Regions from separate parts of the Homo sapiens genome. Here all the other regions are linked to region 2. A link means that fine-mapping ties the variant in region 2 to the expression of a gene that starts in the linked region. Tissue or cell type: whole blood. Region 2 holds a variant in brackets; each other region holds the start of a gene. Each region is shown on its reference strand, or each on the opposite one. Region 1 holds the start of NECTIN1 (nectin cell adhesion molecule 1). Region 2 has its middle 84 kb from the start of IKZF1. Region 3 holds the start of CD14 (CD14 molecule). Region 4 holds the start of GAPT (GRB2 binding adaptor protein, transmembrane). Region 5 holds the start of CSF1R (colony stimulating factor 1 receptor). Region 6 holds the start of DHRS13 (dehydrogenase/reductase 13). Region 7 holds the start of TMEM92 (transmembrane protein 92).

Region 1 (4,074 bases), not on the chromosome of region 2:
TGTCCAGTCAGCCGGCGAGCTCGGCAGCTTCCCCAGGGACACAAAGGGTTAAATCCAGGCGAGGGGACTCGGTCGGATTTGCCTCCTAAACGCATTTTCCAGTTCATTCCCCAGCACAATATGCCTGGGCTGGTCCCAGCCTCCGTCCCCACCCCACCCGTCAGAATGGGCCACCAGGGCCACCCCGGGGTCGGGCGCGAGGTTAACCCCTCGGCTGCCGGCAGCCCGCACCTCGAGGAAGGACACGCGGGGCACCCTCGGGAAAGTGGGTCATGCAGCTACTTGGATGGCAGGAAGCCCGCGGTGTCTCCTCCAGGGAGAGCCCCCAGAGCTGGGAGCAGAGTTCCGAGGGGGAGCCCGGTCCCGCGCCAGGCCGGGAGGAGGCTGCCCCGGCCTCACCCTCCAGGAAAGGAACCGCAGGTGAGCGAGGAGCCGCCTCTGCCGCAGCAGCCGACTCTCCGCGCCCGCTGTGGGGCGGTGTGGGGCGGGAGGGGGCCCGAGCGTCCTGAGCCGTCTGGCAAAGGGGCCGCCGAAAGAGACGAAGCCCCCCCGCCATACTCCAAACCCGCAGCTCCGAGACTGACGCCCTCCCCCTGGGGCTGTTGTCTCCCACCCCAAGACGGTGATTACGGTGATTATTTTGCATTTATGTAACACGCAGTGTTTCCAAACTGCTTCCCGAGCAGAGAGCTGGTTATTAAATAAACAGAACGCTATTACATATTATTATTTTTTGTAAAGAACTGAGCGGAGAAAGTGCTTTCATGCTACATAGAGACGTGCATCTGACTGCTTCCCTGCAGGGCAGGCGGTTCGGCTTCTCAACCTCTTTCTCCGCCGTGCCACCTCCCACCCCCTTTACCCAAGCCGTGACCCAACTTTTCTGGCTCCTTTCACTCCCCACAATCCAGTCGTGCCCGCCATCCGGCTCCCAGCCCCGGGGAGGCATTGGATGGGGGTGGGGACAGCAGAGGTGAGCGCTCTTACCTGGGAGGAAGAATGCGGTCAAGCCGAGAGCGAGTCCCCACCAGCGTCCAGCGGCGCCCGCAAGCCCCATCCGAGCCATCGGGGGCCGGGGGTCCGGCGAGAGGGGCGGCGAGGGCAGCGCTCCTCGCGCAGCAGAAACCAGCCCGGAAGATGAGGGAAGATCGCTGGCGGTCGGCGGGCGCTCGAAGGATCCAGGTCAGCTGCAGCCGTCGGCCGGGGCGGGGTGGGCTGGGTGGGATCCGCGCGGCCGCAGTCCGGGCCCCGGGCCGCCGCCGGCTCAGAGGCTCGGCAGATGCCCGCCGCAAGTTGCACGAGTCATGCCCCTTCGCCTCCTCCGCTCTCCTCCCGGCGCCGGTCCCCGCCCTCTTCTTCCACGCAGAGCGGGGCTGGGGAGAGGGACCCACCCCCGGCGCGCCCGGCTGCCCGGTTGCGCGGCGCGGGCTCCTGGCCCCGGCCCGCTCACACCCTCCCGCTCGGCTCCAACTTGCAGGCGTCCATGGCCGGCCGTCCTCCGAGGGTGGCGGGACGCACCCGGGCGGCGCAGAAGGCTCGGGGCCCAGGCGGCGGGCGCGGGGCTCGGCGGTCGGCGGCCCGGGTGGCTCTGGCTGCGCGGCCGGGCGCGAGGAGAACGGGTCGGAGGCGCCGCGCGTCCCAGCCGCCGCCGCTCTGCCGGGTGCCGGCGATCCGCAACAATGTGGAGCCGCGCTCGCTGCTCTCGCTCTCTTTCTCTCACTCGCCGAGCTCCAGCCTCTCACCCGCTCGCCCGTGATGTCAGCCAGAGGGGAGGGGTTAGCGTTAACCCCCTCCTGGCCTCGATGCGCGCCCGCCGGGGCCCGGTCGGAGCCCGAGCGCACGCGCCTTCCCGACCGAAGCAGAGGCGGATCGCGAGCGCGGGCTGCGGGGTCCGGCTCAGGACCCTCGCTCGGGAGCTACCCCTCGGCCGCCTTCCAGCTGGGGAGCCGGCTGGAGCGCGGGCTGCCCTCCTCCTCCGCTGACAAAGGCAGGCAGTGACCCCTAGCGGCCGGCGGCGCCGAGGCGCGGCGGGTGGGGGTGGAGTTAGGACCGGGCCGGGGGCGGCGGTGGAGGAGAGGGCGGGATGGAGAATCCCGGCTAGCAGCGTGGGAGCTGGCAGGGCTTCTGCAAGCCCTCTGCTCCCACCCTGGCCCCATTTCACAGACGAGGAAACAAAGGCCCAAAGAAGAGTTCCGCCCGGGACGGAACGTGGCATAGCTCGCAACAGAACCCAGTCTCCGGAGATCCCTCTCCTCTGCACCACTTGGACGTTCCACGGAGAGGCAGCGGTGCGCGGGGCGACGGGGAGCTGCCAGAGAAGTCAGTGGTGGGCATGAGTGGGTGAGACGGGCCCACTGAGGTTTCTGGTAGAGTTTCTTTTCTAATCCCTGCTCCCTTCGGGGGTTCCTTTTCCAAAAATTGAAGCACCCCGCGCCCCGCCCTTGCCCAAACATAGCCTGAAAACGAGCTCTCCTCCAGTTTCCAGGACCTTAGTTTTGAGAGATTTGTGGGATTCCCGCGAAAGTGGATCGTCCAGTCAGTGTCCCTGGCAGGGCAGGGACTCTCCGCCCCATCCCGTTCACCACCCACTACATCCGGGTGTGGTAGGATTTCTGCCAAGGCGACTGCGCCCTCCGGGCCTTCCCTCTTCCCCTTACTCTGGTCCTCCTATCCCCATCCCCTCCCCCTGGGGGAGGAAGACAGACAGAGTTTCCCACTAAGGAGAGCCGAATTCTCCCCAGACCCTGGCCGGACACTGCTCCCTCTACCCTTTGCCCAGCCCTCTAGGCGGGCAGGAGCAGAGGGGAAGTGGCTGTTTCTGATAACACGTAAATTCTGGTTCCTCACTGGAGAAGGGGCAAAGACAGCGCCATATTCCCACTGTCTGGAATCCGGCCCTGGAGTGTCTCGGTTTCTCGCGGAAGTAGTCAGATCTGGCATTGTCATGAACACTCACCCACTCACTGTATGGTCTTTTACATTTAACAAATGTAACCTGGGCTTTCTTTGTGTCAAAACACAGTGCCTGGCTTGGGGATACAGAGACATCATCATTGTCCTGAAGGAACTCAATCTAGTTGAAGGGTGGGGGAAGACAGACATAGAAACGGATGTCGTAAACAAATATTTAATATGGGATTGTGTGGGTTTGGTGGGTCACAGAAAAAGTGCCCAGTTTAGCCCGGGGTGGGGTTGGTGTAAAGGCTTCAGGGAAGCGAACACAGGGTCTCGGTGAGTCATCTATCAGACCAAGGTAAGTGCTGGAGGGCAGAGACATAAAAGAGACTGGATTTAAGGTAGAGGGTCAGCACGAGCAAAGGAATGAAGGTAAGCAATAGTCAGGTGAGTAGGGGGCCCACAAAGGGTTGACTGGTTTAGCCTGAGCCTAAGACTTGAGGAAAGGAGAGGTCTGCAGATTCGTGAATCATGCCCGGTAGCTGCTAGGAGGGTTTTAAACTGGGGAACACGCTATCAGATTTAGTTTGTGGCAGCTGGGAATCTCCCATCTGGCTGCTGAGTGCTTTAAGGGCCAGGGTTGAATTGAATTCATTGTGATGGCCTTTAGCTCTGTGCCAGGCACACTGCAGGAGCTGAAGGCATGGTTTGAAGGGGCAATCCCAGATGTACCAATGTCTTCTTGTTCCCTGCTCTTACCCTCCCATCCTCTCCATCTTTATTTTATTTTATTTTATTTTATTTTATTTATTTTATTTTATTTTATTTTATTTTAATTTAATTTAATTTTATTTTATTTTATTTCATTGAGACAGAGTCTTGCTCTGTTGCCCAGGCTGGAGTGCAGTGGCGCCATCTCACCTCACTGCAACCTCTGTCTCCCAGGTTCAAGTGTTTCTCCTGTCTCAGCCTCCCGAGTAGCTGGAATTACAGGTGTGTGCCACCACGCCCGGCTAATTTTTGTATTTTTAGTAGAGACGGGGTTTCTCCATGTTGGCCAGGCTGGTCTGGAACTCCTGACCTCAGGTGACCTGCCCTCCTTGGTGTCCCAAAGTGCTGGGATTACAGGCATGAGCCACTGTACCCGGCTGCACTCTCTCCATCTTTAGGTCAGGCTTC
Region 2 (4,077 bases):
GCCTTAGAAAAGGCCCTGGGAACAGCTGTATCTTGTCCTTCCAGGATCCTCCAGATAGAGAAGCCAGACGTTGGGTGGAGGAGGGACTCAGATGGGGCTTGAAGGGAAGGGCCTTGTGAGGGCTGTAGGTGGCACACACTGGCAGAGGCACTGAACATACGTGACCTCCATCCTCACAAGAACCTGGCAACCAAGTGGCAACCCCATGCTCAGAAACAAAACTGAGGCTCAGAGAAGTTGAAGAATTTGTCTAAGGTCATGAAGCTGATAATGGAGGAAAATGGGATTCCAACTCAGGAGAGTTAAGCTCCAAGCCCTTGATTTTACCACTTGGGCCTTGTTACTCAAGGTCCAGGAACAAGTGGCACCTGTGCCACCTGGAAACTTGGTAGAAATCAGATCCTCGTGCCCCACTTCAGATGTACAGAATCAGAATGTGCATTTTCTCAAGAGTCCCAGGTTTAAGCATGTGTTCTGCCTTCCTGGGGAGGGTCCTTGAGCACTTTGGGGTCACAATTCAGCACCAAGTGGTGGTACATTCCCAGGTCAGGAAGAGGCTGTGTGTCTCTGGAGTAGAAACCCTAAGAGGCATAATAAGCAATAGTGCTTAGGAATAAGTGCTCAATTGTGATAATCAAACAGATAAGGAAAATAATGAGAAGGTGAGATTTCATGAAAGACAAAAAGACTAGTAGATGTTACACCTCTGGTTGTTTCTGAGTTTGTGAGCTCTTCGTCCATCTCTCCATCCACTCATTCATCAGAATGACTAAGGATCTAAAATGTTGGAAGGACACAGGCTGTCTCATTTTGCCTGTTTGGCCCACAGAGAGAAGTTAAAAGAGTTTGTTCTTACACCTAAGATGAGCTTCTAAGTTCAGTTACCAGAATTTTCAAGCAATGCAGAAAGTGGCATTCTGTGGTGGTCTTTAGAAAAGCAGTATCTCCTAAATCAAAGCAAGAGAGAATAAGACCACACATAAATCAAATGAAGAAAGAGTAGTGCCATCAATGATAGAGACAGACCTGAGGAGAGGGTGGTGGTAGAAAGAATCTGAATTAGAAAAGGGAGGAGAAGAAAGCCATGAGTGATGCTTGTCAAATTTGGGACTGGGCCCACACTGGCATTAAAGAGACCTGAATAGTACCTAGAAGTGTTCTGGGAGTTTTCACCATCCTGTGCTCCAATCATATCCTAATAGTTACTGATTTGGAAGTGGTACCCTGGGTCACATATGTCAATATCAATAGAAAGAAATGATTCTTATGGTAAATTCACAAAAGGATTATTTTTGGATTATAATTTGGCATCATGTGAGTTTGACTACCATGGGCTTGTTTCTGAGAATGTGATCACTTCAAGATGCCCTTACAAAATTGATCCTCTCTATTCTGAAAAATTGTAAGCCCTTGACCTGGCTTACTCACCTAACTACCGAGTGGCCCAATCAGCAGGTCTCCTTTCCTGGCATGGCACTGTAACCTCCTCACCCTGGATCTCTCCCACTACTTTCTTACAATTCAGTTAAGGGATCACCCATACCCACATGCTCACTGCCTCTCCCACAGTTAGTTCCTGAATCTGTTTTGACTGAGGTTGCAATTACTTAAACTTTTGCAACCATCCCCTTCTCTCTATTCAACAGGCAGAACCTAATATCATCACTCTTATTACGTGGCTAACCAGGGAGCTCCTGTTCTGTGCCTCAATTACCAACTCTCCCTGTCCTGTGCATGCCCTAGTCTATGGAAAGGACTTTAAGTGCCCTTTTCTGTCTCCATTTAGTCCTCCAAATGCCTTGCTTTCAATATTGAAGTCCAGCTTCTGAACACCCTACCAGGTGGCAAGGCTCCAAGAACCATTTTTTTAAGTGGTTCCATACTGCTTGGCATCATTTAGCCAATATGCTCAGGGTCTACACTCCATCTACCACTGGGATCCCATCACCACCTGCCTACCCCACTTCCACTCCCACAGCTGACAACTTTCCCTGAACAAGATTGAGATTGTTGTGCTCTTGGACACTTGTGCCCAGCCTCCCCTGCCCTGACAGCATCCTTGCCCTGTGGGTTCCTCCAGCCTCCATTTTCTTACCCCAGTGGGGAGACTAAGCACCACCTATGACTATCTCTTTACTTCATTACGTGGCTGGAGATGGAGTTTCTTCTGTAAATGGCATCTGACCTATCTCAAGATAGAGGAGCCCAAAGGAGTGATCCGAGTGAGTGAAGTGAATTAGTGACAACTTCATGCAAAAAAGTTTGAGACACGTCATGGAGATGAATTAGGGAAGAGGTAGAGGAGGACCTCCAAATAGAGGAAATGAGGTAACACTTGCAGG[G/A]ACTGGGCAACCACCAGCTCAACAAGGGAGGGGACAGAGGTCAGCCTGTGGCAAGGAGCTCCCAGCCCCTCCCTCTCTGGGAAGAAGCAGTGGAAGCACCTTTCCTCCAGTTCTGCTCTGGACTCCCAGCAACAAACCGTCATGATCTGGGAACTTTGCACAGCCAAGGATGAAATGTCAGCCCTCAAACCTATGTCAGAGCTGCTGTGAAAATTGGAAATAAGAAACTTATGATAGGAAATTCATTTGCATGTACTATTTTACTTTTAACCCAGAATGATAGCTTTAGGCTTAAGCCATCCTATATCATCTGTATGAATTATTTCTTAATTTTCACTGAATGTTCAAAAGTAGAGTCATGTTTAATCATATAAGCACAGAGATGCATATACACACATATTCATACCTGCATGGGGCAGGGGAGTGTGTGTGTGTGTGTGTGTGCATAAACACAAGTTGCTGGGAGGAGATGAAATGAATAATGCCATACACTCACAACTTAAAAAAAATTGGGAGTAGTAGTATTTTGTTTCTCAGTTATTAATTCCAGTTAATGTAGTGATTAGAAAAGGAATCCACAAACATTTACTGGAATCTAAGTTCAGCCAAGCATAATGAGACTGGCTCATGTTATTTTTAATAGGCTTTTCATAGCTCATCCCTTAAATATAGAGAAACAAAGAGGTAAGAGAAATCAAGTCTATTCAAAGGCACATTCCATCCATGATACCAAGATTACAGCAGTTCTCTCATGGCTATAAAGCTTTGTTCCTGTCTCTTTAGCCAATTCAATAAGTAAGCTCACAAATGGGATAAAATAGATTAAGGAAGCCCTAAATGTAAGTGTCAAAGATAAACAGAAAACATAGTATACTCTTTCTTGCTCTTTTTGCACTGTTGTGTGACTTGAAACATTTTCCCTAGTTAGTTAGGAGACTTGGAATACTTCCAATCTGCCCCTACTCCTTGCCGCTTATAAATTCTTAACTTCCTATTGATACCAAAGATATCACAAGAAAACAAATCAATATATCATATTAATATAGATATAAAAACCTTCAACAAAATACTAGCAAGCCAAATCCAGTAACATATAACACAAACTGTATACCATGTGTATGCATACCAAGTGGAACTTATTCCAGGAATTCAAGGTTGGTTTAATATCTGAAAATTAATTAATGTAAAATAACATATCAACAGAATAAATGATAAAACCATATGATCCTCTAAATTAATGCAGAAAAGACATTTGACAAAAATCTAACCCCCTTCATGATAAAAACACTCAAAAAGCTATGAAAAAAATGGAAATTTCCTGAGCCTAATAAAAGACATCTATGAAACATCCACAGCTAATTTAATAGAAAATGACTTATTGTTTTCCCCTAAGATCAGGAATAAGACAAAGATATTCATTCTCACTGCTTCTATTCCACATTGTACTGGAAGTTCCAGCCAGAGAAATTAGTCAGGCAAAGGAAATAAAAGGCTTTTCGACTGGAAAAGAAGAAGTAGAACTATATTTATTTCCAGATGACATGATCTTATATATAGAATATGCTACAGAGCACACTAAAAAAATAGAATTAATAAATGTGTTCAGCAAGGTTGTAGGATATGACACCAATATGCAAAAATCAGTTGCAAATCTATACATGAGCAATAAACAATTTGAACGTTGTTTTAAAAATTTCATTTACAATACCATTCAAAAGAATAAAATACATAGAAA
Region 3 (4,077 bases), not on the chromosome of region 2:
CTTTCTCCCATGCTCCCTGTGAGGCAGGCATCTAGCTCTCTGATGGATGTGGCTGCCTCCTCATTGAAATGAAGAAGGGGCTCAGAAGAAACAGCACCTCTTGATGGCTGATGCTGTAGGTCTCTGAGCTAATGTGGACTAGAGGACAAATCCTGTTTATTCTGAAGTTTTGAAGAGTCTGAGATGCTTTCCTATTTGCCAATCAGTCAGCCTGAAAAGGTTATCTGCATATGTGTTCTAACAGAACACAGGATCTCTAATTCAGAGACCGACTGTATCTTGCGTCAGTTCCCTAGGCCCAAATTTCCCATTATGTCGGGGAGTGACACAGTGAAAGCCTCCGGGTGAAGAGAGGTTTTACAAGAGAGGAACCCTAATATTATGAAACTCAGAGCTTGTGCAGGATAGGAGGCTGTCCCTCTTCCTTGAGTGGTAAGGGAGACAGACAGAGAGGGAGAGGGAGGGTGTGTGAGTGTGTGTGTGTGTGAGAGAGAGAAAGAATAAGGAAATAAGCAAATGGCTGTGGGTTTTATTACCTTTGAAAGGGAGCAGCTGGCTCTTGGGAAGTGCATAGGAGAGGAAATATTTTGTATCTTCCAAATATCATGCAAATACCTTTTAATCCAGATGCCAATAATCTGCTCAGAAAGCCCTGACTGCACACTCATTGTTTCTCCCATGCAGCCCTAGCCAGGAGTCCTTTCCTGGCTCCTTCTATCCCCGCAGTTCTTTTCTTGAGGAGGACAGATAGGGTTTCTTAGGGAGTTAGGATGAAGAAAGCCTAAGTATGATGAATTCCCCATCCAGCACTGTGCCCAGCACATAGCAGACATCCAATAAAGGTCTGTTAAATGAATGACACGGACCCGTTGTTTAAGATTTTAATAAAGGTGGGGCAAAGGGTTGAATTGGTCGAAAAGTCCTCAACGTCCTGACGGGACTCCCCTGAAGCCAAGGCAGTTTGAGTCCATTCATTATTCTGTCTTGGATCTTAGGCAAAGCCCCGGGCCCCTTGGAGCAGCACCAGGGTTCCCGACACCCCCACCGACAGGGTCGAACGTGCACAGGCTGGGACCACGCCGGAGTTCATTGAGCCCTCGTGGGGGAGGGCAGTTCCAGGGACCAGGAAGGGATTCCCGTCCAGTGTCAGGTTATCCACCTCGGGCAGCTCGTCAGGCTGCGGCGCCCTGTTCAGTCTGTTGCAGCTGAGATCGAGCACTCTGAGCTTGGCTGGCAGTCCTTTAGGCACCTGTTCCAGCCCAGCGAACGACAGATTGAGGGAGTTCAGGGCGCTGGACCACATGCATCTCGGAGCGCTAGGGTTTACGGTGGCGCGCAGCGAGTTGTGGCTGAGGTCTAGGCTGTGGGGCTGCACACCTGCCGCCGCCAGTGCGGCGCACACGCCTGTGGGCGTCTCCATTCCTGTGTTGCGCAGCGCTAGATTCTGGATGGCCGGGAACTTGTGGGGACAGAGAGCCGCCATCAGTCCGCGTTCGCCCAGTCCAGGATTGTCAGACAGGTCTAGGCTGGTAAGGGCCGGGAAGGCGCGAACCTGTTCGCAGGAAAAGGCAGGCGAGTGTGCTTGGGCAATGCTCAGTACCTTGAGGCCTGGCTTGAGCCACTGCTGCAGCTCGGCGAGCCAAGAACGCCCTGTCGCCCACGACACGTTGCGTAGGCGCAAGCTGGAAAGTGCAAGTCCTGTGGCTTCCAGAGGCAGCGGAGGCATGGTGCCGGTTATCTTTAGGTCCTCGAGCGTCAGTTCCTTGAGGCGGGAGTACGCTAGCACACGCAGGGCGCCTACCAGTAGCTGAGCAGGAACCTGTGCGGCTCCCACTGTGAGCCGCCGCACGCGGAGAGCCTTGACCGTGTCAGCATACTGCCGCGGGTCGGCGTCCGCATCGACGCGCTTTAGAAACGGCTCTAGGTTGAGACCGCCGGCATGGATCTCCACCTCTACTGCAGACACACACTGGAAGGCTTCGGACCAGTCGGGCTGAGGTTCGGAGAAGTTGCAGACGCAGCGGAAATCTTCATCGTCCAGCTCACAAGGTTCTGGCGTGGTCGCAGAGACGTGCACCAGCGGCAGCAGCAGCAGCAACAAGCAGGACGCGCGCTCCTGGGGAGAGAGCAGAGGTCTAGGAGGCCCCATCCAACCCCTGTGGCTCCCGAGTGGCACGCGTTCGACCCCAAGACCCTACACTCACCATGGTCGATAAGTCTTCCGAACCTCTGAGCTCCGGACAGGCTCTGGAAGTGCTTTAGCTTCTTTCCTACACAGCGGCACCCGCCGGCTTCCAGGCTTCACACTTGTGAACTCTTCGGCTGCCTCTGACAGTTTATGTAATCCTGGGATGTCATTCAGTTCCCTCCTCTGTGAACCCTGATCACCTCCCCACCTCTCTTCCTCCGAGCCAGCCCCCTTCCTTTCCTGGAAATATTGCAATGAAGGATGTTTCAGGGAGGGGGACCGTAACAGGAAGGATTCTGCAGGGCATCTAGGGTTCTGTGTCTCCTGGCAGTGTCCTGATGACTCAGGCGCCCCAGGCGGTGAATGCCCTGTTGACTCGGGAGCCTAAGCCTTCTCTGGTGGGTGTGGGAAAAGGATGATCCTCAGTGCCTTAGGCCAGTACCATACTCTGCACTATCCAACCCCCCAATCCCCCTACCTTATATCCCAGAGAATCTACTTGATTCATTTCTTTGACTTCTTCCTTGTCTTGGTTTATGTTGATCTCCTGCCACCAAATCCAAGTCCCTGAATATCCTCAGATATTTAACTGCATGTTTTGTGGAAGAGATTGTGAACCTCATCTGTTGGCACCAAGGGGGGTAGAATTAGGTTCAAGAAAAGGAAGTTGGTCTAAAGAAAAATTCCCCCTTCCTTTTTTTTTCCTTGCTCCTTTGATTAAGTAATAACTTTCTTTCTTTTTTTTTTTTTTTTTTGAGATAGAGTCTTGCTCTGTTGCTCAGGCTGGAGTAGAGTGCCATGATCTCGGCTCACTGCAACCTCCGCCTCCTGGGTTCAAGCAATTCTCTGCCTCAGCCTCCCGAGTAGCTGGGATTACAAGTGCCCACCACCACACCCAGCTAATTTTTGTATTTTTTAGTAGAGACAGGTTTTCATCATCTTGGCCAGGCTGGTCTTGAACTCCTGACCTTGTGATCCACCCGCCTCGGCCTCCCAAAGTGCTGGGATTACAGGCGTGAGCCACTGTGCCTGGCAGTACTAACTTTCTTAAAAGTGGATGTATTTAACAGAGACACATTGGCCAAGTCTCTGGGTCACTTACACTATCCATTTTCTGTCCTGAAATTGTGAAGCAAGGTATTTTGAATCAGTTTTCCCACTTGCACGTTGCTCTCTCCTGCCCTCCCCTCAGTACAATCTCTGTGCCCTAGGAAGGAAGGGATGGGACTATGTTGAATGAGGATTAATTAGTAACTCACCAGTTTCGCAAAAAACAGACAAAAACAGAAAACAAAACAAAATGAAAAAAACAGCAAACAAAACAAAACAAAAAAACAACAAATGTCCCAGAGAATAAGGAGCTACGCATTTACAACAGCCCTCACAGGTCCACATCCCTAGACCTCTGGGGAAAGAACTATATGAAAGTCTTTTTTTTTTTTTTTTTTTTTGAGACTGAGTTTGGCTCTGTTGCCCAGGCTGGAGTGCAGTGGCGTGATCTTGGCTCACTGCAACCTCCGCCTCCCAAGTTCAAGCAATTCTCTTGCCTCAGATTCCTGAGTAGCTGGGATTACAGGAGCCCACCACCATGCCCGGCTAATTTTTGTAGTTTTAGTAGAGACAGAGTTTCACTATGTTGACCAGGCACTCCTGACCTCAGGTGATCCGCCCGCCTTGGCCTCTCAAAGTGCTGGGATTACAGGCGAGAGCCACCACACCCGGCCTGAAAGTCTTTTTTACTTTTATTTATTTATTTGAGACGGAGTTTTGTTCTTGTTGCCCAGGCTGGGCGCGATCTCAGCTCACTGCAATCTCCGCCTCCCAGGTTCCAGCAATTCTCCTGCCTCAGCTTCCCGAGCGGCTGGGATTACAGGCATGTGCCACTACAC
Region 4 (4,077 bases), not on the chromosome of region 2:
AGTAAAGTGGTTGCTATCACCAATTAATAGGAGAGGAAGATTTACTTAGATGAAAGATCCAGTCCATATTACACTACAGAACAATAAACTACTTCCTAAGCCCTTTACTACCCAAACCGTATAACTGTAGAAGAAAAAGCAGGAAAAGAAAACCTAGACATAATTGCTGTGATTAAAAAGGAACTGAAAGGAGACAATAAATATGTATTTTGCGAGGCCAAAGATTGGGAAGTAGGAAAATATAGAATTCAAGACATAAAACATAATCCCTACAAATGACAATGATCCAATAATTCTATTTTGAATATATACAGCATTTCTTTTATAAACTTGAAGAATAATTATATCCATTACATCAAAAAAATTCTATTTGAGGAAAGTGCCAGTCATTTTCCCTCCATTTTATTTTCCGTTAGAAAAACTAAAGTAATAAGGGGTTAAGCAACTTTTTTAACTTCAAAGGGCAAAAGCTGAATGAGCACCAGTTGTCCTGCCTTCTAGAGAAAATCATAATTTTATACAAACATTGTATAAATTGCCTTTCTTACAGATGTATGCCTAGGCAGGTGAGTGTGTATATTATTTGGAGGGGTGGCTAATACTGAAGTTAAATATAGTGGTGAGAATGTGGAGCACATCAAGTTCATAGCTTCACAACTTCATAACCTCCTTCACTGTAAGATTTTTGTCCAGGACACCCCTATTCTGCCTTAACACCTTATTCTATGAGGCTTAGCTCAGGTCTTGCCTTCCCTGACCACCCTCTGAGCTGGATGCCTCTTTCCTTTACCTCCACTGTCCCTGTCCATAATCCTGTCTTTCTTAGGCATTATCACTTTGATCTGAAATGTTCTGTGGGCGCAGCAGCCTCTCTACTTGGCTTTAAGTGCTGCAGGGAGCTTATTCACTCTTGCATCCTCATCTCTTAGCACAATGCCTGGCATAATGTCAGTGCTCAGCAAGTGTTAATAATACGTCCTGTCCTTCCAATGTCCAGTAGTTATTTCAGTAACTAAATCCTCTTTTTTAAAACCACCTTATGCAAAGTTAATCCTCTGTGGTTCAAAAAGTTCCAAGACAACTTAAAAGACAAATTTTCCATTACTTTGTCATCTCATCTGTCGAATTCATCTGTAATTTGTCTAATTCAGCATCTCCCACTGTGTGTGTTCCCATGAGTTGGACTCCAAGAGATGCTCTTGGTAAGCGTATCTATGTGGGAAACATGTTACTCAATCTAGCAAGGCAGCCAGTGCAGTGGTTTAGCACACAGGTGCTGGGGGCAAACTGCAGGCTCTGTCGGGCAAGTGATCATTCTGTGTGCTTCTGTTTCCTCTTCTGTAAAATAGGACTAATAACAGTTTTTCTCCCTCACAGGGTTGTTGCCAAGATTTGCTGAGTATTACACAAAAGGTTTGGAGTACTTAGTGCTAGGAACATACTGACTACTATTATTAAGCAAAGTTAAACAATTTCTTTTTCTTATTTGGTTTTATTTTGTTTGCTGGCTGTAAGACTGCTGAGAGCCTTTAGCATGCTGATGTACCCATGAATCTCCAGGGAAGCAGTATTCCCCACATTTACTTGATGGAAGAGCTGCTAGCATATCTCAGGGGTAATGGGCCTCAAAACATACCTTAGGAAATTCCTATTTATAAATTTAAAAGAACGTTAACATTTTCCAAACCCAAATTGGGACACTGATTTGACCTGTATGGCTATAACTTGGGAGCATTGGTACATAATATTAATATTTGAAGAGAGGACTGGTCTAGCAACACAAGTAAATAATAATAATAATAATAAAAGCCCAAGACCTATGTGTTACTACAATTAAAATATTTCTTTTTTTAAAAAATCAAAGTACAAGTGAAGTGACTTTTATTGATATTAAAGTGGGAACTGCAAATATGGCCCAAATAAAAAACCATGTAGGCTTTACGTATTATTTTCTGACACAGTTAAAAAACTATTACTTGACAAAGATGAAGGGCCAGACTTCCTTATTCAAAACCTCACGCCATTTATCTTAATTCTGCTGCATCTGATACTGACTTCCTCTAGAGCCAGGAAACTTTGCAAGTATTAAATAGCGTGAACGAAGGAGGGAAAGAAGGAAGTAACCCACCAAAGTGAAAAAGAGGAACAAGTTCTAACCCAATGCAGGTTTAAAACATAACCAAAAGAACAAAAGAGAGAGCTTGACACACCAATCTTGAGGTAAGTAAGAACCTGATTTAAGGTATTTGGATGATTAAACACTATAAGAAACAAGTTTGTCTTTAATTAATCAATGATTTTTATCTTACTACAGTTTTTAGAAAAAAATGCCTTACGTAGCTGTAAGGGGGAAACCCAATTTACAAACTGAGAGTGATGTTAATGTTTCTTTACAATATGATTATGCTTTGCTGTTACCTTGTTTCCAAACAGCAGGGCATTCTCTTACTTGAAAATTCCTGAAGTTTCTCAACAATTTGCGATTTTAAGAAAAATGTCAAATTGTTAGGTAACCTGTTGGAACTGCTTTCCAAAATGAAAACAGAGTCTTCTTTCAAACTGGTCAAAGTGAACATTATTTAAGTGTTAAACTATATTTGAATGGTTATTGTTTAAAATATGTTTTTCATTATAGTAGGTCTTTGTTCATGTCTCACAGGTTTTTTCCTCTAATGTTATTTCGAAGAAAATGATGCATTTCTTTTTCTGTAAAAAGTCTTCTTGTCTTTATCTTGGTAAATATCTCTTAGACAAACAATTTTAATATTTTGGATGTACCAGAATTTCTACTCTACATAGAATAACATAGATGGTAAAAATGCCTTTTCTTCTTAAAAATTAAGAGAGTAATTTATTGCCTTATCCTCAGCTACAGAAGTGACAATAGTTAGCCTTCCTCAACCCTCACCGTGACTTCTGTTGCAGGCCTAGTATCTTTCAAAAAGTTGATTAATTTCAATCAATACTTAAAGTGTATTTTGTAAATTTATTTCAAATATTCTGGCAAATAACTTCTTAAATCATTAACCATGTATACCATAAAATATCTTGCAGATAATTGGTGCTCATCTGTTTCAGACAGGAAATGAGGTCCTAATGATTAAAGTCATTTGGCTAAACTTTTGTCCTTGAACACAAGCACGGCTGGCCTTATAAAGGAGGGACCCTGCAGATTGTAAATCTTATGTGGCGGACCATACAGTTCTCAACCTCAATATTACTCCCAAAAATTCCAAGGAGATTAAAATGTTTCTGCATCTGGGGTGCTTGTCCCTGTATTTTTATCAAAAAATTGTATAAATTAGCTGCACATCTTATTTAATTTTCTTTTATGAAATGTCAAATTAAATATTTGCATATTAATATATTCTAACCTTGGACAAATTTATGAACGTTCATTACCATTAAACTTTTCATGAAAACTCACTGAAAGCAGAGCACCACTTTGTGAATTTCTATTTTTCTTCTCATTGTTACTATTATTATCCCATAAGGAGATTACTTCATTCATTAACAAATGTCTAATAGATTAGTCATTCTGTGTCTAATGCTGGTGTTGGTAATACAAAGGTAAATAATATATGATTTCCAACCTTCGAGAACCTCAGAGCTAATCAAGCTATACAAATTTTCTGACTGATGCACTTAGTAGCATGTTACAGATATTTGGATAAATAATATTTTGGGGAAATTTTTACCTGAATTCTCATTCAGTCACATTTTGGTTGTAAGGAAGTTACTTAACTTCTTTAAGCCTCTCTTCTTATCTATAAAATGGTGATATGAATAGTACCCACTACATATAGCAGCTATAGGATTAAATGAGATAATCCCTGTAACAGTTTTTAAAAGCTGAAACTCTTAACTAAACATTATTGATGATAATAACATTCCATAGATGATAATAATCATTTCACAGGCACTGTTGGATCTATGTCTATGTCTAGACTGAAAATATACAGTAATAATGTTTTGTTGATAAAATCACAATGGAACATGCAGCCCAGTTGAACACTTCCCCTTCTTGTCTCCTTGCCATTTTAAAGCATCAACAGAAAACAATGTAAAATCATCTTG
Region 5 (4,077 bases), not on the chromosome of region 2:
TCTGAAACTCCTGATCTTGTGATCCACCCGCCTCGGCCTCCCAGAGTGCTGGGATTACAGGTGTGAGCCACCATGCCTGGCCACAAGACTCCATCTCAATAAAAAAAATAAAATTAAATTGAGACCTGGCTCAGATACTTTTCCGTTTTTGCCCCACAGGCAGGTTGTGGGTGTAAGGATAGGACAAGGCAGTGAAATCAAACCTGTGGGACTCTCTGAGATGAAGGGGGTGGCGGGTACACTGTGTGTGCATTTGTCAGACCTCATTGAACTTAAGAACCTGTGCTTTCTACTGCATGTAAGTTACATTGCAAAATAAGAAGTCCAGGCCGGGCGCCGTGACTCACACCAGTAATCCCAACACTTTGGGAGGCCAAGGCAGGTGGATCACCTGAGGTCAGGAGTTCGAGACCAGCTTGGCCAACATGGTGAAATCCCATCTCTACTAAAAATACAAAAATTAGCCAGTCATGATGGTGTATGCCTGTAATCCCAGCTTGGGAGGCTGAGACAGGAGAAACACTTGAACCCGGGAGGTGGAGGTTGCAGTGAGCCGAGATTGTGCCACTGTACTCCAGCCTGGTGACAGAGAGAGACTCTGTCTCAGGAAAAAAAAAAAAAAAACCCAAATACTCAAGCTCAGTGTGATTGCCTGGGCCAGAGAAGGATGGTCAGTGGGCCATCTCCTCCTCATCAGGGACCAGAAGCGCCACGGCCTTAGGGTCCTTCTGTGAAGAGGCCAGTATGAGGCTGTCCTTTCTCCCCTTCAATCCCCATCCTCCCCCAAGGTCCCTTTGAATAAGCAGGCAATAGAAATGTGTTTGTTGGGCCAACAAGCCAAGCACAGCAGCCCCTCACCTCTAGTCATGTTCCCTCCCAGATGGAAATTCTGCAGAACTGCTACAGCCTGGGGACCTCCTGAGACTTGGCAGCCTGTGTCTGGGAGGGCTCTGGTCCAGGAGACCCTCACTGGCCTCTTCCCAATCCCTCCTCTAGCCCTATACCTATTTCACCCCGAATTCCCCTCTCCTGAGCCCTGGGCCAGAGAGGCCAACCTCTTGTCTCTCCCCTCTGACCCCTTACACAAGCCACCCAAGGAAGAACCACCACCCCTATCAGGCCCTTCCAAATCAGATCTTGCATAGAATCATCGAATCACAGGCTGGCAGAGCTGCCAGAGCCATCAGGAGCTCTCCAGGTCCTCCCAACTCAGTGTAGGTCTGGACCAGCAGTGCCGGCATCTCACATCTCCCAGGAGTGTGTTGGATATACAGAATCTCAGGTCGCACCTGAGACCGACTGAGTCTGAATCTGCATTGTAACAAAATCCTCAGGTAACTTGTATGCACAGGAAAGTATGAAAAGCACTGCTCTGGTCTAGTCTATCACTGTCCCCCTGCCCCCAACACCTGCAATTGAATAGAAGTGGACACTGAAGCCTCAAGAGTATCAGAGGCTTGCTCAGGACACACAGTGAGTCGCTGGCAGAGCTGGGACAGATCCACAGCACCAGGTGGACCAGTTCCACCACACCCATCTCTTTTCACCCCACTACCTCTCCAAAGCAGATACCCACAAGCCTGCAGTCCAGTGTTGGGGAGACTAAAACAGCCTGAGGACACCCAGTGAGGGGCAAGGACTGAATCCTTTCACAGGGGTCTTCTCCATCACACCCCAACAAAGTCCCCCACCCCCCGTTCTGCTCTTACCATGCCAAGCTGTGGCCACCAGCAGGAGCAGCAGAACTCCTGGGCCCATGGCCTCGGTGGGGAAGTGGCAGGCAGGTGCAGGGCTGCAAGGTGCCCAGGGCACAGAGCTCTCAGCTACTAGCTCCGCAGGGATCGGGACACTGGACACACGTTCCTCTCCTCTGCACTGGCTGTTTGTCTTGTTTTCCTCTTCCTCCTCCTTGGGCTGATCCTCTTCTTCCCCTTTTAGCTAGGCAAGGCAACCACAGAGTTTGGAAATCTTGGGTCTTTAAGAAGAAAACAAAGCCTTGAACCCAAGAGGGAGGGGTCGCAGTCTGGGGCAGGGCCAGCCTGAGCTTGGGGGGAGCTAGCTAAGTTTGGGGCCCTTCTAAAGCCATCTTCAAGGGGTCTTGGGAGAAGAGACATGTCCAAGAGCAGCCAGACCGTTAGTCAGTAGCACAAATGAGGGTCTTCAGAGTGATCAGGTGGCTCTGGCAGATCCCAAAGAGAAGTTAGGTTGCATGATATTGTGACATATATATTTTTTCTTTACCCTGATGTCCTGGCTTACAACTCCTAAAATCCTTGGAATCTCCAAAGTAATGCATATCTTTTAAAAATTTATTATTATTATTTTAGAGACGCAGTTTCACTCTGTTGCCCAGGCTGGAGCTCTGTGGCTCGATCATAGCTCACTGCAGCCTCAAACTCCTGGCTCAAGCCTTCAAGCTGTGAGATCTGACGTTATCTCTAGGTAAATATAGTGTTCAAATTGAATCGGAGGGCACCAGATTCGTGTCTGCTGCAGAATCTGAACAATTGGTTGATTGCTTGGTGTATGGGGAAATATGCCCCATCCTCTACATCTGGGGTCAGAAGTATTTTGTGTTGTGAGACTATAGGAGAAACGGAGTTTGTTTTCTTCCTGTATACAGGTTGGTCTGGGAGAGCCTGATAATATTGGCAATAAGCTTCCTTTTACAGGACATTTACTAGCCAAACCTTTTACATTCACTGTCTCCTTTAGTACTGCAAAACTTTATGTAGGTAAGTACTATTGTCATTCTCATTTCACAGATGGGAAAACTAAAGCTCAGAGAGATCAAATGCCTTAAGCTTGTCCATAGTCAAACAGCTACCAAATGGTGGAGATAGGATTTGGATCCCAGCAGTCTGGTTATAAAACTATCTTTTGTGCGTTACTTACATTGTTTATTTATTTTTACAAAGAATCTAATTGTTCTGCATAATTCTTAAAATATATAGCATTCCTTTGCTCCCTCTTTTCCTGGAGGCAATTGCTTTTACCTCTTTTAGTTGATTCGCTTAGTATTTTACTTCTTATCTCTAAAGAACATGGTCATTTCTTCTTCTTTTTTTCTTTTTTTTTTTCTGAGACAGGGTTTGGTTCTGTCACCCAGGCTGGAGTGCAGTAGTGTGATCTCGGCTCACTGCAACCTCCACCTCCCGGACTCAAGCCATCCTCCTACCTCATCCTCCTGAGTAGTTGGGACTACAGGGGCATGTGCCACCATTCCTAGCAAATTTCTGTATTTTTGGTAGACATGGGGTTTCACCATGTTGTCCAGGCTGGTCTCAAACCCCTGAGCTCAAGTGATTCGCATACCTTGGCTTCCCAAAGTACTGGGATTATAGGTATGAGCCACTATACCCAGCCTAAAGTTCCTTCTTGAAATTGAAAAATCCTGATATAACATTGATCCAGGAAAATGATCATTCCCGTGTACTCAGGTGTGTGTGTGGTGTGTATGTGTGTGTTTGTATGTATATTTATGAGTGTATATATGTACTTTCTTTTTCAGAAAAGTGTTTTGAACCTTTAGCAATCATGAATGTCAATCAAAGCTGACTCAAGAAGAAAAAGAAAATCCAAATAAACCTATAACAAGAAAAGAAATTTAATCAGTAATCAAAAACCTCCCGACAAAGCAAAGCCCAGGACCAGATGGCTTCACTGGTGAATTCTCCCAAACATTTAAAGAAGAATTAATACCAATCCTTTTCAACTCATTCTATGAAGCCAGCATTTTTCTGGTACCAAAGCTAGACCAAGACATTGCCAGAAAAGATAACTACAGACCAATACAAATGCATGAATATAGAAAGCAAAAATTTTCAAAAATGTACTAGCAAACCAAATCTTTTTTTTTTTTTCTTTCTTTCTTTCTTTTTTGAGACAGGGTCTCACTCTGTCACTCAGGCTGGAGTGCAGTGGAGCAATCTCGGCTCACTGCAACCTCTGCCTCCCGCGTTCAAGCTATTCTCGTGCCTCAAACTCCCGAGTAGCTGGGATTACAGGCATGCGCCACCATGCCCAGCTAATTTTTGTATTTTTAGTAGAGACAGGGTTTCACCATGTTGGCCAGGC
Region 6 (4,069 bases), not on the chromosome of region 2:
GCGGTCCAGGCGTTTGAAGTCAAGACGTCCCCGACAGTGGGCAGCTGAGGCTACCACCACCACGCGGCTAGGGGCACATGCCTTCAGGCAAGGCAGCAGCAGATGTGTCAGCAGAAAGGGACCGATATGGTTCACCCGAAGCAGCAGGTTAAACGCCTCACGGGTCCGGCCACAGGAACTGATACCTGGGGCAGAGGCTAAATGTGAGCGGCTGCTCCAGAAGGAGCTCTGCAGCCTTGGCATCCCTATCTATGAGATGGGAGAAGGGGGCATCCTTCCCATGTGTCCACTGGCCCCAGCAGGGCCCCCGCTGGAGGGGGCAGTTGCCCCTGGCCACCCGCCACCCCACCCCCACGCAGGGCCTGCTGCCCCTCACCGGCATTGTGGATGAGGATGTCCAACCGTGGCTCAGAGCTCAGAAAGGCAGTGGCAAAGGCCCGCACCGAGGCCAGACTGGCCAAGTCCAAGGCCATGAAGATGACCTCATTGTTCCCACTCTCCTGTGGAGAGGCAAGGGCTGGGCTTGTCACCAGGCATCTCTCTCCTCTTCCCTCTCCCCAGGCACCAAATTCTGAGAGTCCATCTCCTACTGTTTACTAAAATCTGCCCCTGTGTCTTAGAGTGTACTAGATAAGTGTGTGGATTCAAATCCTGACTTTGCCTTTTACTAAAGTGTGACCTTGGGCAAGATACTTAATCTCTCTGGGTCTCAGTTCTCTCACTGCGTAAAGGGAATAATAATAACAACAGTCCCAATCTCACTGAGCTTTTGTGAGGATGAAAGGAGTTAACGTGTAAAATACACTCTAGCAGCACTGGGTAGGTACTTGCTATTATTATTATCACCTCCTTTCCCCATTACCATTTACCCTAAAATCTGTAACTTCTCACTGGTCTCCTCTCTCCCGCTCTTGCCCCCCCACTCCAGGCACCACGCAGCCACAAAGGAGTTCCTTCCAAAGGCTATTCTGACAGTCCGGAGCCTACTGAGGGCTGTTCATGGTCTCCACTGGTCTCTGCTGCCCAATCTATAAAATCCAAGCTTCTCAATAGGCTCTAGAATGTTCTCCAGCCCCCTCATTTGCCCATCTTCCTCATACTTTGTGCTCCAGCCTCATTAAATCTTTTTCTCAGTTTTTCAGATCAGTCCAGCTCTCTTTGCCTCAGAGCCTTTGCTTATGCTGTGCCCTCTGCTGTTCCCTTTCCTACTGATCATTAACCCAACTTCTACTGATGCTTAAACGTCTCAGAACTGCAATTACGGCCTTCAGGAAGCCCCTCCCCCACTCGGCTCTGGTGCGCCTTCCTCGGGTGACCCCAGCGCTCCGTGCACTCCCTCTTCGCGCTCAGCCGCCCGCGCCGCGCTCTCCTCCCTGGACCCGGATCCTCCGCAGCCCCTTTGCTGGCTTCTCTGTGTCCCGGCGGGTTCTCGGCTCACCGTCCCACGCGCCCCCGCTGCCTCTCACCTGGCGGAGGTCGAAGGCAGCCGCCTCCCCGCGCTCCTGGCTGCGGCAGGCCAGCACCACGCGCGCTCCCCGGCGCGCCAGCTCCAGCGCCGTCATCTTTCCGATGCCGCTGTTGGCGCCTGCGGACCGCGGGCGGGAGCCGAGCTGAGCTGAGCCCGGCGGGCCGCTGCTACCGCCGGCCCGGCCTCCTCTCCGCGCGCCCCGCCAGCTCGCACTCACCCGCCTCCGCACTCACCCGTGACCACGGCCGTGCGGCCCCGCAGGTTGCCCATGCCGCCGCACGGCGGGGCCTTCACCAGGTTGTAGTAGACAAGCACGTAAGCGCCCAGCAGCAACCCCGCGCCCAGCAGCAGCGCCTCCATGCCGGCCGCGCCTCCCGGCTCCCGCCCAGGCCCCGCACCGCCCTGGATCGCCGCCAGGCGGCTGCCGATCCGCCCTGCACAGGCCTGGAACGGCGCCCGGGCGCGTCAGCCTCCGAAGGCGGAGGCGGGCAGGAGGCTGGGCAGGGGCGTGTGCGCGTGCGGGTGCGCGCCGGCCCTGCGAGCGCCCCCTAGGCGTGCGTCGGCGTCCTGGGGGCGTGTGCCTCTGTGGACACCTTTGAGGTGAGTGTGTGCGCTTGGGCCCTGGGAGCGCCCCCTAGGTGTGTGCCTGTGTGAACTCCTGGGTGTGTGTGTCCACGTACACCCTGTGAGTGCACGCTAGGTATGTGCATGCATCTGCAACGCTTGTATGTGAATGATCTCTAGGTGTGTATGTGCCCATGTCCCTGAGGATCACCCTTTGGGTTGTGTGCGTGCCTCTGGATCCTGTGTGTGAGCTCCTGTAAGCACCTTGTAGGTGTTTGTGTGCATTCTGGCAGAGTCCCTCCAGGTATGTGCCTGCATCTGTAGTCTCTGCCAGTGCATGTGCTTGCATATCTCCATATGTTTACTCGAGGTGTATGTAGCACAGTCCCTCCCTTCTGAAGTTAGGTGTGTACATGAATACACGTGTGTCTTTGAGTCTAGTCCTAGATGCTTTTCCCTCTAAGAACAAATCCTTCTCCTTCCTTCCCTTCTGCACAAATCCTTCTCCTTTCCTTCCTTTCCTTTCCTTCCTTCCTTCCTTCCTTCCTTCCTTCCCTTCCTTCCTTCCTCCCTTCCTTCCTTCCTTCCTTCCCTCCCTCCCTTCCTTCCTTCTTTCCTTTCTTTCTTTCTTTTGAGACGGAGTTTCACTCTCGTTGCCCAGGCTGGAGTGCAGTGGCGTGATCCCGGCTCACTGCAACCTCCGCTTCCCGGGTTCAAGCAATTCTCCTGCCTCAGAATCCAGAGTAGCTGGGATCACAGGTGTGTGACACCACACCCGGCTAATTTTTGTATTTTAGTAGAGAAGGGTTTTCACTATGTTGGCCAGGTTGGTCTCAAACTTCTGACCTTAAGTGACCCACCTGCCTCAGCCTCTCAAAGTGCTGGGATTACAGGTGTGAGCCTCTGCACTGGGCCAAATCCTTCGTTTTCTTATCTTCACATCCAGCCCCCAGCTTCTAGGATTCTTCCGTGTTCTCCCCACACAGGCTAGAGAGGACACTGTTAAAGGTGGCACAGGCAGTTAAGGGGTGTCAGAATTCACTCCTTCATTCCCCCTCTGTATCTCCCTACCTCAACCCCACTAGTGCCTTCCATGGCTGAAGGGAAGCAGGAAGAGATAGAGAGTAAAATCTGTTATTGCCTTTCAGGAGGAAATTTGCCTTTGGAATGGTTCTCATAGGTGATAAGAGACAGGCAGAGAAGCTCCATCACTCAATTACAAGTGACCATGATGGCAGGAAGGGTGGGGCTGGCTAGGAACAAATGGGTAAGACCATTCCAGGGCAGAAGGCCGTTGCCTGATACATTCAGTACAATTTAGAACCTGGTATTTGGCACTTATGGTGTGCCCAGCAGTGTAGTTAGACTTGGAAATTCCGAGTGGAAGATATACAAGTTTCTGTCCTTAGGGAGTTCAAAAAGCCCATTAGGGCACCGGGAGCAGAGTGATGACGCCTGCATGGGCAGATGAAAGTCAGGGACAGACCTCAGATTCCAGGGCCAGTTTCCTATTTAGCTGCACTGCGGATTCGGGTTTCCATTGTAGATGCTGTGGGATGAGGCTGGGGGTAGAATATTCATTTTCTATCCCTAAGGCAAAATCCTGACACACAAGCAGATGCACCTACACAAACAGTGCTGGAATATACACAGAGGTGCTCTCCATCTGAGGAGGCTGACCTCAGGAAAACTTCCTGGAGAGTTTTTCACTAAGATCTGGGAGGAAAGCATGGAATTTGGTTTAATGAAGGTCCCCGGGACTTGAGAATTAAGGTAATGCAGCAGACTCGTTTTTTGATGAGGAATAGCAGTTGTAGAGAAGTGTGACTGCAGATCACATGACTAGAAGTGACAGGTCAAGACTAGATTCCACTATCAGTCAGGGTTCTCTGGAGAAACAGCTCCCCCCGGGCCAGCAGACGCACCCATGTCATTCCATTGTCATCCACCCACCCTGGCTCACTTTTCTCCAACACCTCCCCTACCAAACTTCCCTATGGGAATGAGACCTGTTCAAAAGGCCCCCCACCTGCTAGA
Region 7 (4,000 bases), not on the chromosome of region 2:
TTAAGGGGCAAAAAGGGCTAGGAGGTAATGGGAAATAGAGACAGGGAAAGGGAGAGAGAGAGCAGGGAGACAGCATAAGAAACAGACCGAGAGACTGGGGGTGCAGGACCAAACCAGGGACAAGGAGAAGGGACCAGAGAAACCGAGAAAAACAGACGCCTCCGCCGAGGCAGACAGAGGTGAACAGAGAGAGGAGAAACAGACGGGAGAACAGAGGGAAAGGCTGGGAACTCGAGAGAAACTGGGTGCGGACAGATGGGAAGAAACCGAAACAGAAAAACAGAGGCTGGGAGAAACGGGGAGAGACACAGAGGGGTTAAATATAAGACAGAGAACATGACTGGGAGAGATGAGGGAGAAGGGTGAGAGGCAGAGAGCAAGGAAAGAGAAGAAACGCCCACGACGTCGGGGGTGTTTTTCAGGGGTCAAGACAGATTGGCGACACAGCAGGAGGCGCCCAAGGACATGACGTTGAGCCTCTCAGGGTCCCCCTTGGCCGGGCCAGGGAGCAGCGCCCCACGCTCCATCACCCCCTCTCCCCCTCCCGCGGTCCTGGCTGCACTGCTCCTGCCTCGCCCTCGCCCAGCGCCCCCAGCCCACAAGCCCCGGCCGCGCCCCTCCCGGCTCCCGGGGGCACCCGCGCTGGGCGACGCTGCCACCTGCCGGCCGCTCCCGGAAGCTCCGCGCCTGGAGTGCTGGAGGCGGCGGCCGCAGGGGGCTCAGAATCAGGCCCCTCCGCACTGGGGCGGCCTCCGCGGGGTCTTTCCAGGAATCTGGATGGGCCTGCTCGCCCGCGCCCCGGCGGGCCTGGCAGAGGACCAGCCCCAGCTGCGGACCCCGGGGCAGTCTAAACCCTGGGGCCTTGAGTTCCCGTTTTGTCAATGGGAGAAAATGCACCAACACCTCCTGTAGGATTTCAAGAGGGGAGGGGACACGAAGGTACCCACGTTGTGCTCCTGGTCTTCCTTCCTCGACCTGGAAATCTCAGGGCACTCTGAAATCAGCCAGGCTGCTCTGTCCCTCCCTTTTTGGTCAAAACACAATGGGGTGATATCCCCCAACCATAACCCCTCAAAATCTACCCTAGAACCTTCGCCTTCCCCTCCCTCAACCTCTGCCCCCATTTGACTTCTCACCAGACCCAGAGGTCCAGATAAGAAGGGGCTTCCACGTCCCCTTCCCACTCCCGCCGGTCCCGGCACCCCTCCCTGGAGTCTGGGGCACTTAGGAGTGGAGGAGTTGGGAGTTAGGAAGGCCCAGCTCAGCGGTGTGGAGTTGATCCCACCTCTTTTTAAATTTAGGTTATTTATTTATTTATTTATTTATTTAGAGATGGAGTCTCACTCCGTCGCCCAGGCTGGAGTGCACTGGCACGATCTCGGCTCACTGCAACCTCTGCTTCCCGGGTTCAAGCGATTCTCCTGCCTCAGGCTCCTGAGTAGTTGGGATTACAGGCACCCGCCACCACGCCCGGCTAAATTTTGTATTTCTAGTGGAGACGGGGGGTCTCACCATGTAGGCCAAGCTGGTCTCGAACTCCTGACCTGAAGTGATCCTCCCAAAGTGCTGGTATTACAGGCGTGAGCCACCGCGCCCGGGACCGCTTTTTTAAAAATCCGTTAATCTCTTCTACCTCCCAAATCCCAAAACCCAACCCAGACCTCTGCGCCTCCCTTCCTCCCTTCCTCCTCCCAGCCCCTCCCTGCCCCGAGTCCGCCTCTCCCGGTGCAGCTCCGCCCCCATCCCGAGGCGGGGCCCCATAGGTGGAGAGAAGTGGGAGAGGTCGCAGCCCCGCCTTCTCTACACAGGAAAGCTCAGTGGCCCCCAAGCCAGGATGTCCCAAGCTTGGGTCCCCGGCCTCGCGCCCACCTTGCTGTTCAGCCTGCTGGCTGGCCCCCAAAAGGTGAGACTGGGAGGTAAGGTTGTTGAACTTTTGGGCCCTACCCTTGTAGGTCAGGAGCCTGCTTCTGGAGCCTGGTCGCCACCTTCCAGAATCAGGATTTCCTCCTGACCACACACAGTTAGCTACTTCCTTTCTCTCTTTGCTGTGGAGGTGGAGGTGGGGGCAGCGGAGGAGGCTCTGGGAGAGGCTGGGTTCTCCCACCTCTGAGGGGGATCCTGTGGTGGGAAGTGGCCACCACCCACCACCTTATCTGACACCTAGCACGTCTCTGTGAATAGGGACTTTGGACCCCTTATTAGCCTCAGCTTATCCTTCCAGCTCCTTCCCGCCTGAGCTTTGGACACCTGGGCCAGCACTTAGCCCCAGCTCAGTTCCTCCAGTGCTGGGGGACCCTGGGATGTCCCCACCCTCTTTGGGACTGTGTCTCTGCTTGTTCCCTAGGGGAGAGAAGGCTCTTTTGTCCCCTTCTAGGGGTAAGTAATCCCAGCCTGTGGTGGGATTTGACCTGGCTGCCTGACCAAGGCTGGGGTGACCTCTGAAATCTGTGATTTTGAGAGGGAGGTGTAGGGTTCGAGTGTTCCCTCCGCCCTTCTGTTCCTCCCAAGTAAACTCTACAGGTGATGGGGGAAAGCTGTCCGGTCCTGGGATGGGTGTTTATCCTGGGAACAGAGACGGGTCTAGAACATGCATTTGTGTCTTATTTCCATTTAAGAACCGGAGGGAAGTCAGGGTCTTCCATAGTTAGGATTTTAGAACAGGGCACCTTCACACATCTGGGCTGAGCTTTCAGAGAGGCTCTGCCAAAACCCTTCCGTGGACCCGGGTTAGTGAGCAAGGTGTTCCTTCTAAATCACTGGGCGGTCAGTTTGTGTCAATGCTGGGCTGGGCATCCTCTGGTTTACCCCTCCCACCAACCCCAGGGGCGAGGTGCTGTTAATACCTTCAATTCTGGAGTTAAGTAAGCTGAGATTTACTTACTCCCAGCCCAAGACCACCCTGACGCTCCATAAAACTCAGCCTCTGAACCACCCCAGACAAGACTACCCCCTGGTTAAAATGTGGGGAGACAATCTGGGAGAAGAGCTCCTCCCCCTCCCAAACCGGAACTTGAGATTAATTTACTAAACCTGTTAATTATCCATTACTTATTAGCTGGGGTCCAGGAAAAGGACAAGGGCCAGAGTGGGGTCTGAGGGGGAAGGGGTGCTGTTGAGTGCCTGGATGGACCCCTCGATTTGTCTCCAAGTTCCCTCTCTGTATATATATATTTTTAATTTAAAGAATAGAGGCCAGGCGCAGTGGCTCACGCCTGTAATCCCAGCACTTTGAGAGGCCGAGGCAGGCAGATCGTGAGGTCAGGAGTTTCAGACCAGCCTGACCAACAACCCCATCTCTACTAACAATACAAAAATTAGCCAGGCATGGTGGCACGTGCCTGTAATCCCAGCTACTTGGGAGGCTGAGGCAGGAGTATCACTTGAACCTGGGAGGCGGAGGTTGCAGTGAGCCGAGATCGCACCACTGCACTCCAGCCTGGGCAACAGAGCTAGACTCCATCTCCAAAAAGAAAAAAAAAGAAAAAAGAAAAAAGAATAGAGACAGGGTCTCGCTATGTTGGCCAGGTTGGTCTTAAACTCCCGGCCTCAAGCAATCCACCCACCTCAGCCTCCCAAGGTATTTAGGATTACAGGGATGAGGCACCGCACCCAGCCTGTCTCCAATTCTATAGTCATTCCTGTGTGCTGTGTGATTTGGATTCACAGACTCACCCTTTCTGGGCCAACCTGCAGGGGTTCCTTCCTGTTCCTGTCCCCACAAGGGGACAAAGCCTGTGAGATGGTACTCAGCCTGGGACTGAGCGTGGAAAAGGGGAATTACCCCAACTCTTATTGGCTATCACTGGTATTCTTATCTTTACTGTTGTGATTTGCAATTGAAATATTTTATAAAGGTATAAAGATAAAGATAACGGTGGTTTTGCCAAAGCTGGCTTCCTATTTTTTAGCCTTGGTTGTTTGTCCCAGGAGGCTAGGGTGGGGTGAGAGATGCCCTTCCCCACCACCCATTTCCTATGTTCTGGCACCTACATCCCTCCCC

The links. PIP is the estimated chance that this variant, and not a neighbour inherited with it, causes the effect.
Region 1: NECTIN1 starts here. The variant in region 2 is the best candidate, but not a certain one, in a credible set for the expression of NECTIN1 in whole blood (TOPMed, PIP 0.86).
Region 3: it holds the start of CD14, and the variant in region 2 is fine-mapped to the expression of CD14 in whole blood (TOPMed, PIP 0.92).
Region 4: GAPT starts here. The variant in region 2 is the best candidate, but not a certain one, in a credible set for the expression of GAPT in whole blood (TOPMed, PIP 0.89).
Region 5: it holds the start of CSF1R, and the variant in region 2 is the best candidate, but not a certain one, in a credible set for the expression of CSF1R in whole blood (TOPMed, PIP 0.87).
Region 6: it holds the start of DHRS13, and the variant in region 2 is fine-mapped to the expression of DHRS13 in whole blood (TOPMed, PIP 0.97).
Region 7: it holds the start of TMEM92, and the variant in region 2 is fine-mapped to the expression of TMEM92 in whole blood (TOPMed, PIP above 0.99).

What each region holds. Positions count from the first base shown.
Region 1 is chr11:119,727,488-119,731,561 of GRCh38, forward strand. It overlaps NECTIN1 (nectin cell adhesion molecule 1), which reads right to left and starts at 1,713. Exons shown (of 6, transcript NM_002855.5): 1 at 988-1,713. The coding sequence starts at 1,066. It overlaps NECTIN1-DT (NECTIN1 divergent transcript), which reads left to right and starts at 2,096. Exons shown (of 4, transcript NR_120587.1): 1 at 2,096-2,319. RefSeq lists enhancers at 1-237, 1,037-1,898, 1,899-2,759 and silencers at 1,309-1,628, 1,689-2,098.
Region 2 is chr7:50,218,876-50,222,952 of GRCh38, forward strand. No RefSeq gene overlaps it. Among named protein-coding and RNA genes, the nearest start is that of IKZF1, 84 kb to the right of the region's middle. The variant G/A (reference allele first, on the strand shown) is at 2,343.
Region 3 is chr5:140,630,865-140,634,941 of GRCh38, forward strand. It overlaps CD14 (CD14 molecule), which reads right to left and starts at 2,311. Exons shown (of 2, transcript NM_000591.4): 1 at 2,205-2,311; 2 at 868-2,116. The coding sequence starts at 2,207. The coding sequence ends at 992. It also overlaps a transcript of TMCO6 not described here. RefSeq lists enhancers at 954-1,455, 1,184-1,243, 1,456-1,955.
Region 4 is chr5:58,489,322-58,493,398 of GRCh38, forward strand. It overlaps GAPT (GRB2 binding adaptor protein, transmembrane), which reads left to right and starts at 2,114. Exons shown (of 3, transcript NM_001304431.2): 1 at 2,114-2,220.
Region 5 is chr5:150,084,670-150,088,746 of GRCh38, forward strand. It overlaps CSF1R (colony stimulating factor 1 receptor), which reads right to left and starts at 1,885. Exons shown (of 21, transcript NM_001288705.3): 1 at 1,710-1,885. The coding sequence starts at 1,758. RefSeq lists a promoter at 1,758-2,190 and an enhancer at 1,943-1,972.
Region 6 is chr17:28,901,117-28,905,185 of GRCh38, forward strand. It overlaps DHRS13 (dehydrogenase/reductase 13), which reads right to left and starts at 1,963. Exons shown (of 5, transcript NM_144683.4): 1 at 1,702-1,963; 2 at 1,467-1,585; 3 at 377-500; 4 at 1-185. The coding sequence starts at 1,828. RefSeq lists silencers at 862-1,054, 1,556-2,185.
Region 7 is chr17:50,272,668-50,276,667 of GRCh38, forward strand. It overlaps TMEM92 (transmembrane protein 92), which reads left to right and starts at 1,799. Exons shown (of 5, transcript NM_153229.3): 1 at 1,799-1,903. The coding sequence starts at 1,835. RefSeq lists silencers at 404-743, 1,881-2,175.